Homo sapiens: one gene and its partners. The protein of the gene in region 1 interacts with the protein of each later gene in a pairwise test. Each region holds a gene or a part of one and is shown in the gene's direction. Other genes may lie near its edges. The genes, in order: TXLNB, CAGE1 and DTNB.

Region 1 (3,660 bases):
GGAAGCCTGACCATCTTTCTTTCCCAATGAACAGGGTATGGTGATTAAAGAATCTACCAGTCTAGTACACAATGCCAAAAAAAAAAAAAAAAAAGGAAAGTGATGTCCATGACCAAGCATCTGTTCAGCCCCTACTCTGTAGCCAGGTCCCAGAGCCTAGTAGACAAATTCTGGGACAAATAGTTTTGCTTGTTTCCAGAAAGCATCCTGGACATTTTGCTTATCATGTCATTTCATCTGTGTGTGTATGTGCGTGTGTTTTCACATCACAGAAAGCACTGAGAGCTAAAGAATATGAGTGCTTTGTGATGAAAATCGGGAGGCTAGAGAACCTCTGCCGTGCTTTACAAGAAGAGAGAAACGAACTCCACAAAAAAATCAGAGACGCAGAAATATCTGAAAAGGATGACCAAAGTCAGCACAACTCCGATGAAGAGCCAGAGTCAAACGTCTCTGTGGATCAAGAGATTGACGCAGAGGAGGTTAATAGTGTCCAAACCGCCGTGAAAAATCTGGCCACAGCCTTCATGATAATTCATCATCCAGAGTCAACCCCGCACCAGTCCAAAGAAACCCAACCCGAAATAGGCAGTTCTCAGGAGAGTGCTGACGCCGCTCTCAAGGAGCCAGAGCAACCCCCTCTGATCCCTTCACGGGATTCAGAGAGTCCCCTGCCTCCCCTAACTCCTCAGGCTGAAGCCGAAGGAGGCAGTGATGCTGAACCTCCCTCCAAGGCCAGTAATTCTCCTGCCGGGTTGGGAGCAGAAACCCAATGCGAGGGTCTCCCTGTTGGAGCACAGGCTGATCAGGCGTCCTGGAAGCCAGAGGCAGAAGCTTCCGGTCAGGCCCCACAGGCTCCCACCGAGGCCTCCCTACAGAAGATGGAGGCAGATGTGCCTGCTCCAGCATGCGCAGCAGAAGAGCACGTTGCAGCCATGGTGCCTGCATGCGAGCCCAGTAGGCAGCCCCCACGAGCAGCAGCAGAGGAGCTGCCAGTAGGGGCCTCAGCTGGGCCCCAGCCGCGCAACGTGGCTGACACCAATCTGGAAGGCGTCGACTAAGCCTCACCGTGCCTTCAGAGGCTTCTTCCTGCCTCTTTGCATATTCAGCATAACAGCTTGTCTTCCGAAAAAGGCATTAAGGGCTAGAGATGTCAAATGGAAGAGACTTAGGATCAAGACATTTTTTAATGTTAGGCAGAACACATTCATTCAGACTTTGCTATTTGTTGTCAATTTATAGCTGATTTGAAGGTTTTCTATTTAACACTGGTTGACAGTATAATTTTCCCAAAGGGCAACAAAACATACAGATAGCAAATTTATATTCCTTTTCTGTTAAGATAATACTTAAATTTGTTAATCACCAGTAAGATTTGATGTTTAAAGACTTCCACTGCAATATATAAATACTGAAAATGTGATGTTCTGCTTATTTGGATATATAGTTTAACAAGTTCCATAGTAATTTATGGATGCCCAGGTTACATTTAAACTATACATATACATAATATATACATACGTGTGTACTTATTATATGTATATATACACGTATGTATAGATGTGTGAATATTTGTTTATATACATATATGCACGTATCTATATGTATATATAAATGCATTATTACACATACATTTCTCTCACCCCTTAATGCATTTTTCTCAATGCAGAATATTTAGATGCTAATCAAAAAAATGATCTCTTACTTGCACTTGAGACTATGGTTGACTAATGCTCTATAAATCCGAAGAGAGTTCGGACTATAAGTATTTAGGCTATCATTATGTTGGGCAAAAATAAGTAACCCAATGGTAGATAAATGAATTCAACCAGTTGATCAAATGGCAGAAAAGCAGTTAGACTACAATCTGTGCAGACAGCATGGACACAAAGATGACCACAAGGGGCCCAAAACAGAAAAGAGAAACACAAGCTCACCTCTTGGAGCTGCTTCTCCTACACTTCTCAGCCCATTGCTTTGCCACCCCCTCATGTGCCAGGGCATCCCATTCCAGGCTTCCTGCAAGGAAACGGTTGGAAGTGGGAAAGGGGAGCTAGGGATTGAGGGGTTAAGGGACCTCACACTAAGAAGGGGCTGTGCTTTGATCCCCTGCCTCTTGCACTACCAATGTCTCAAGACATAATATTCATCTCTTGCTGTCAGACCCATTCTATATTCTAAAAGCTTCTGCTCCTTCCTTCCCAATTTCTCCTTTGTAGCAGGAAATTACACCCAGCCCTCATCTCAATTAATGCTAAATAAAGCTATTGTTTTTCCAAAACACAAATCTACACTGGGTCTCAATATCAGTGATGAGGCTTACAAACCAACACGTTTTCTGCCATGAGGATTTCTCTTTAGGCCAGAAGTACAAAACAAAAAAACCAATGGATTTTAACCAAAATGATTTGAAATATAGGTGAGGATTCAGGAGAAGGCAAAAGCTAGAAACACTTGGGGTTGTCAACATGAGTATTACATTAACATTGCTTGATGAGAACCTCTAATGATACTGACAACATAAATTACCTAGGGTAAAGGATAGCTGCAACAATGAAACAGGAAAGAAGAGAGGGAGAGAGAGGAAAGGGAAGGAAGAAAGGAAGGAGGGAGAAGGGAAGAAAGAAACAATGTCTAACCCAACCCTATCTTGAAAGTTGAACTCAAGTAGAAAAATGGATAGAAACAAAATTCTCTAGTACTCATCCAGGAAACCATTCTTCAATGTTGCATGTGGCTGTTTGCCAAGGCACACAAAGTGCTTGTAGGCAGCAACCATATGCTACAAGAATTGTAAACTGCATACAGTTTGTTTGAAGTAGACAGTGAGGATAATAACAAAGTTGCTAGGCAGGAAAAAAAATCAGGAAAAAAGCTTGTCGCTATTTGAGAATCTGTATATTTTTAAAGGCTTAAAATATTATAACCACAGGGTATCCAGCCAAATTCAACATTACTGCAAGTCTTAGAGATTTAAACATTCATTTGATTCAGAGCTAAATATTCACCATAATCCAGGAGGGTCTCCTTCCCCACTGCAGAGGCAGAACGTCCAAGAATGGAGTAAGATTAGTCATAGTAAAGTCTCAGTCTGAATATTTAGCAAGAGAAACAGGCAGCAGAGGAACCCAAAGGCAGTAAATCAAATATTCTAAAACCCAAAGTTCATTATTTTCATCCAAAAGACTTTCACAGAAACACATTACTCACAGCCATGTATATCTTGGACAGAGTTTCAGATGGAATGACTTGTCTGAAATTTGTAAAGCTTAATATAGGTTTTGGGGGAATTATTTTAATATTCAAAGAATGTTTTATTATAGTCCTTTGTGTTAAAATTTAGCCTTACTAATTATAACAATAACTCATAAAGTTCTAAATTCAGAAGGAATGTCTGTTCTTTATCAAGTGTATGTAACTATTTTTTAGAAATGCCATCTACTTTCTAGAAACACTAAAGTTATTGTTTTCTAAGTTAAATAACTATAATTTATATATCTATTAAAAAGGTACTTCTCTTCCCAAATTCTCTAGTACTCATTTTATTTTTTTAACTTTGACTTATTTTATTTTTGTTTTTATTACTTCTATGTTTCGACAATACCTAATGAAAATTATGGTTTTATTCTGTAGTTTATTAAGTTTTTGGTCACTAAATAG
Region 2 (2,452 bases), about 130 Mb from region 1:
GGTATGTCATTTCTGTGCTTTCCTGTTATTGCTCATGCAGCTTCTCCTACTTGGTATGTTCTTCCCCAACTCTTTCTCTCAGTTACTCAGTTCCCACCTCACAAACGCCTGTCAGCTCAAGCTCTGCCTCCTCTCTGAAGCTTTTCCTGCTCTGTCTCCCAAATGGAACTGACTTGCTTCCTCCCATGTGCTCACACTATACCCTTTGACGTAATAGCACCTATGACACAGCATTACAGTTCTCTGCTTGCATGTCCTTTGACTTGACTAGAACTCTTTGAGTACAGGAATTGTCTCATATTCATTTTGATATCCTCAAGTACCTATCTCATAAAAGGTACTAAATAGGAGTGAATGTTAGACTTGGGACCCAGGACCAATGCTACACTTGCTGGAGTGATCCCAAACAGCAGACACAGCTGCTGCCACCTCTGTCCCATTCCAGGACATGGGTATGTTCATAAATGCCGTGGCCTATTTGTAACATAGCTTTGGGGATGAGGGGACACTCAATAGGGCATGCCTCCATATGCTGCCATTGAGACCCAGCTTTTCTCATAGTTGAACTAAGAGGGTGCCTTAATACTGTCAATGGTTATTTATTTATTTATTTATTTATTTATTTTTTAGACGGAGTTTCACTCTTGTTGCCCAGGCTGGAGTGCAATGGCGCAATCTCGGCTCACTGCAACCTCCACTTCCGGGGTTCAAGTGATTCTCCTGCCTCAGCCTCCCGAGTAGCTGGGGTTACAGGCAGGTACCACCACGCCTAGCTAATTTTGTATTTTTAGTAGAGACGGGGTTTCTCCATGTTGGTCAGGCTGGTCTCAAACTCCTGACCTCAGGTGGTCCGCCTGCCTCAGCCTCCCAAAGTGCTGGGATTACAGGCGTGAGCCACCGCGCTCAGCCAATACTATCAATTTTTAACTATGCCATGCTGCTAAATCACTTTTGGATTATTCAGATTCTTGCTTCTATTCCTTTTTCTACATCTGTCAATTGCCAACCAAACCAAGGAAGATGAAACTCAATCCACATTGTTCTTCATGGTGTTCCTTAGTGGGAAAAAGGTTGAAACAAACAAACAAAAATATCAGTTAAAATATAGTGTTGGGGGCCAGGTGTGGTGGCTCACACCTGAGCTCACAGCTGAGGCAGGTGGATCACTTGAGGTCAGGAGTTCGAGACCAGCCTGGACAACATGGCAAAACCCCATCTCTATCAAAAATATAATCCTAGCACTTTGGGAGGCTGAGGTGGACAGATCACTTGAGGTCAGGGGTTCGAGACTAGCCTGGCCATCATGGTGAAACCCCGTCTCTACTGAAAATACAAAAAATAGCCGGGCATGGTGTTGAGTGTCTATAATCCCAGCTACTTGGGAGGCAGAGGCAGGAGAATCGCTTGAACCTGGGAGGCAGAGCTTGCAGTGAGCCGAGATTGTACCACTGCACTGCAGCCTGGGTAACAGAGTGAGACTCTGTCTCAAAACAAACAAACAAAATATAGTGTTGGTATTATCTGTGGAATTCATCTATCTATAGGCTTACTTTGCACCCCTTTTCCATATGTAATAAAAAATTGGCTGTTTAGGGGTTCTGTCACTGAATGTTAGTCTTTCCCCAAAACTTACGAAACATTTTTCCTTTCATTTTTAGATGCCAGCTCTTTTTAAAGAAAATAGAAATGATTTAGATTAAACAAGCCTGAAGATTAAACAGTAATCATTTTTGTCAACCACTCCAGGAAGAGTCATTACTACATATGCTAGCCAAATCAATCCATGCAGATGATATATTAAAATCTGTATAAAGGGTAAAGTCTTACATTCCAAAGATGTGATTACTTTTCTTCTAATTTCTTCCTGTGAATAATCAAATATATTCTATTTAACATAAACAGAAGAATACAGTGGTTTTTTGACCAAATATTCTCACAGAATACCACTCCCATATTATCAGGCCTTTAATGATGCACAAAAATAGTCATGGATTTCACTTCAACTTTTTATTTCCTCTGCAGGACATCCTTTTTCTGTCCAGGCAGGCAGATTCTTCATAATACCAACCAAATTTTAAAAGACACCAACTCTGAAATCCTTTGGAATTATAACGCAGATAAAAGAGCCTGGGTGGCCAGGCGCGGTGGCTCATGCCTGTAATCCCAGCAGTTTGGGAGGCCGAGGCGGGTGGATCATGAGGTCAGGAGATCGAGACCATCCTGGCTAACATGGTGAAACCCCGTCTCTACTAAAAATACAAAAACTTAGCCAGGTGTGGTGGCGGGGGCACCTGTAGTCCCAGCTACTCGGGAGGCTGAGGCAGGAGAATGGTGTGAACCCGGGAGGCGGAGCTTGCAGTGAGCCCAGATCGTGCCACTGCACTCCAGCCTGGGCGACAGAGCAAGACTCTGTCTCAAATAAAATAAATAAATAAATAAAGAGCCTGGGCAA
Region 3 (3,660 bases), on another chromosome or scaffold:
ATCTCTACTAAAAATATAAGAAAAGCCAGGCATGGTGGCACACACGCACCTGTAATCCCATCTACTTTGGAGGCTGAGGCAGGAGAATTGGTTGAACCCAGGGGACGGAGGTTGCACTGAGCCAAAATCGCACCACTTCACTCCAGCCTGGGTGAAAGAGTGAAACTCCATCTCAAAAAAAAAAAAGAGAAGACGAAAAGAAAAAGAAAAGAAAAAGTTTAAAATTTCAATGAAAGCCAGTTTATCTGTTTGGTTTTGTTTTTACATATCATGGTTTGGGTGTTTTCTTAGAGAAATTTTATAGTTTTAGCCCTTATAGTTACTATGATCCATTTTAGTTTTAGCTCTTATAGTTACTATGATCCATTTTGATTTAGTTCATATTTATTTGTATCATGGAAAGATCTCAGAAAGCATGCTAAGTGATTAAAGCAAATTGCAAAGTGATATGAGCAGTACAATACCATTCATGCAAAATTTAAAAGCGTGAAATACCATCTATTATTCATAGCTATACATGCACATATAGGTTAAAAGTTTCACAGCAGAATTTTGATAGGGGTTGCCTCTGAAGGGAGGAGAGGAAAGAACTGGAACAGGAAAGAACTGGTGGACAAAAATATTGCAAATTTTTCTGCAATATTTTTAGGTTGAAATACATTTGACACAATATGAAGTTACCAATTTGGGGTGGTTAATTATGTTGTACTTTTTAGTTTTCTGTATTTTTTTTAACTTCTCAAAATACACATACACACACACACACACACACACACACACACACACACAAATGATTCAAAGTAAGAACCACAGAAAACAATCCATTTCTGTTGAGTTTGGTGGCCACACGGTTGAAGCACTGCGGTGGGGTGTCGTGCGTCCAGCCTGTCCACCTGTTCAGGGCCAATTCTGTTTGTATATGGGGTTTCTAGCTGAGAAAGCTAGAAGAAGGATAACTGTCTTCATTTGAATTCACTCTCACACTTTGGCTTCTATTTTTTCCAGTTTTGCTTCCACAGAAAACCCTAGTCCACCTTCCACACTCAGTTCCCGTTGTGCTGAAGAGCTACAGAGCCCACATCTCAGTGAGCGGCCCTTGATTAGTTTTCTCCTTTTATTTATTTTATCCCATTGCTCCAAACTTTCTCCACAACTATACCAGGGCCTCCCAAGGAAAGCTTGGTTTCTGTTTACCATGTGTCCTTTCTCACCTCGTCCCCGCGGGGTGGCCCCGGACAGCCTTGCTGTACATGTGCAGTGCATGTGGCATGACTGGCCCCATGGCCCCGCTTGCAGCCTGCAGCCGAGCTCCGCACATGCTCAGAGCATGCCCTGCAGGAAGTGGGGTCACAACCTGCAGAGTGCACACTGCCACCCTTGGAGTCAAGGGGTTGTTCCCATGCCTCCCACTGGCAAGCTGTGTGGCCTGACACAACGTCTCTTTCCATTCTTCTTCTTCTATAAAATGGACATAAAAATATATACCCTGGCTTGGTATGGTGGCTCACACCTGTAATCCTAGCACTTTGGGAGGCGAAGGCGAGCAGATTGCATGAGCTCAGGAGTTAAAGACCAACCTGGACAACGTGTTGAAACCCCGTATCTACTAAAAATACAAAAAATTAGCCCAGCGTGGTGGCGCACACCTGTAGTCCCAGCTACTCGGGAGGCTGAAGCAGGAGAATCTCTTGAACCTGGGAGGCGGAGGTTACAGTGAGCTGAGATCGTGCCACTGCACTCCACCTGGGCAACAAAGCAAGACTCTGTCTCCAAAAAAGATATATACGTATATAAATATATACATACACACACACACACACACACACACACGTATGTCCTTTCCACTCACAGGTTGCCGGCAGCAGCGGGGGGAGGGGTCCAAATGAGAACATGTACATGAATGTGTTTGCAAACAAAATGAAAGCTGTTTGCATGTTACTTCCTGCCCTGCAAGCCAAGCCCTTCTAGAGCCCTGGCCCAGTCACGCAGCTCACTCTGTCTCCACCACTCTGTGCCAGCCTCTTCTTTCCCTCCCATTCTTGGTCTTGTTCTTAGGATGTTCTCTCTCTCTGCCCTGCACGCCCCCTTCCTTTTTTCCTTTTCTTCCTCTCTCCAGTCTTGGAAGCAGCCTAACTCCTTCCTTTCAAGTATGATCTTGTACCACTGAACTGAGGCCCACTGGCTGGCTCTGGTTGATGGAGAAAAAGTACTTTCTTCCTTCCTCAAAGAGGTCAGGTACTTGAGATAACGTATTTTCTGTCTTTGAATCTCCAGGCTCAGGCCACAGGGTCACCACATACATCGCCCACCCATGGAGGCGGCCGGCCAATGCCCATGCCAGTGCGCTCCACGTCTGCCGGCTCCACCCCCACCCACTGTCCGCAGGACTCGCTGAGCGGAGTCGGGGGAGACGTGCAGGAGGCCTTCGCACAAGGTGAGTTTCTGGAGCAGAGTTCAGCGGGGAGCTGAAGGGATGTGCAAACACGGACAAGATTCCTGCTGAGGTTTTTTCCATTTCTGTTTTGTGCTCTTTGCTTGGAATGATCAGATTTTGACAGACAGTGTAAATAAGTCAGGTGCTGGCCCCTTCTCATGAGACGGGCTGGTCTCCAGCGGGAGGGCTGCAGGCTTCCTATGTGTGCCAAGAACAGGCCTCCTGGGGTTCTCTGCCCTTTTTTCTGGATTATTGGAAGTGCTTTGTCCTTTGGGCTTTGTCTCCTCCAGAGGAATTGGATGGAATAATTCCCTGGCCTAGAAGGGACTGTAACAGGCACTGTAACTGGGACCGTGCTGAAAGCACAGTATGCACGCCATTGTCACAGTCATCGGGGGAGCTGGTGACCAGCAGTATTAAGTAGTTGGGTGGGGATTCAGAGGGAAGTCCTGCTGGGGCTGGAGGTGAGAAGGGGAGGTGGTAGTGGTGGTTGTGGAGAGTACAGCCCCACCCCCACAAGGCTGAGGAAGACCTCGGTGGAATGCTTATTCTGGAACCCAGCTCTGGATTGTGTGGTGGCGGCAAAGCGTGGAGTTGACAGGATGCTGCTCCCTAGGTAGAGAGGGCAGAGGGAGAGGGACCAGTGGGCTGGTGCCTCCTGCCCCCGGTGTGCCTGGGAATGGGTGGAGCTGCTGTGGCCCCATCTCCCCTTAGGTGTTCCACACCTGTGTTCTCGGGCCTGGCAGAACTGAGGCATTTGCTCAGCCGTCTCTTCTCCACGCTCACCCACCCTGGCATCCCCATCTGCTCTGCCTCTCCTCAGGTACGAGGAGAAACCTCCGCAATGACCTGCTGGTGGCAGCTGACTCCATCACCAACACCATGTCATCCCTGGTGAAGGAGCTCCATTCAGGTGAAACCCAGAGCTCCCAGCCAGCTTCCTGGCCTCCCCTGCCTTGCCCGCGCCCTTCTCACTTCCTTGCCAGCACCGGCAGAACCTCACCACCCAGCTTGCACCACCCCATTTCATCACCTAACTTTGCCTTCTAGGAACACACTGGATGTCTCCACCCAGAGAGCCTCTGTCACACAGGATCGCGTAGGGGCGGTTTCACATTCAGGCCTATCTCAGGAGTGCATCTTGTGGAGCAAGCTGAATGTAGAGAAATTCAGACCTTTCAGTGCAGGCAGGCCCCTTCCTCACTTACCTCGTCTTCCATCTGTAC

What was found.
Region 2: the proteins of TXLNB (region 1) and CAGE1 interact in binary tests that used the Homo sapiens proteins (3 or more experiments, as listed by UniProt).
Region 3: the proteins of TXLNB (region 1) and DTNB interact in a two-hybrid assay, tested with the Homo sapiens proteins (one large-scale study listed by IntAct).

Annotation. Positions count from the first base shown.
Region 1 is NC_000006.12:139,239,927-139,243,586, reverse strand, and holds the end of TXLNB (beta-taxilin), read left to right. Parts: intron 1-272; coding exon 273-1,061; 3' UTR 1,062-3,526; downstream 3,527-3,660. UniProt on the Homo sapiens protein: Promotes motor nerve regeneration. May be involved in intracellular vesicle traffic.
Region 2 is NC_000006.12:7,326,106-7,328,557, reverse strand, and holds the end of CAGE1 (cancer-associated gene 1 protein), read left to right. Parts: intron 1-1,658; coding exon 1,659-1,700; 3' UTR 1,701-1,899; downstream 1,900-2,452.
Region 3 is NC_000002.12:25,386,976-25,390,635, reverse strand, and holds part of DTNB (dystrobrevin beta), read left to right. Parts: intron 1-2,274; coding exon 2,275-2,434; intron 2,435-3,257; coding exon 3,258-3,347; intron 3,348-3,484; coding exon of another isoform or gene 3,485-3,537; exon of another isoform or gene 3,538-3,660.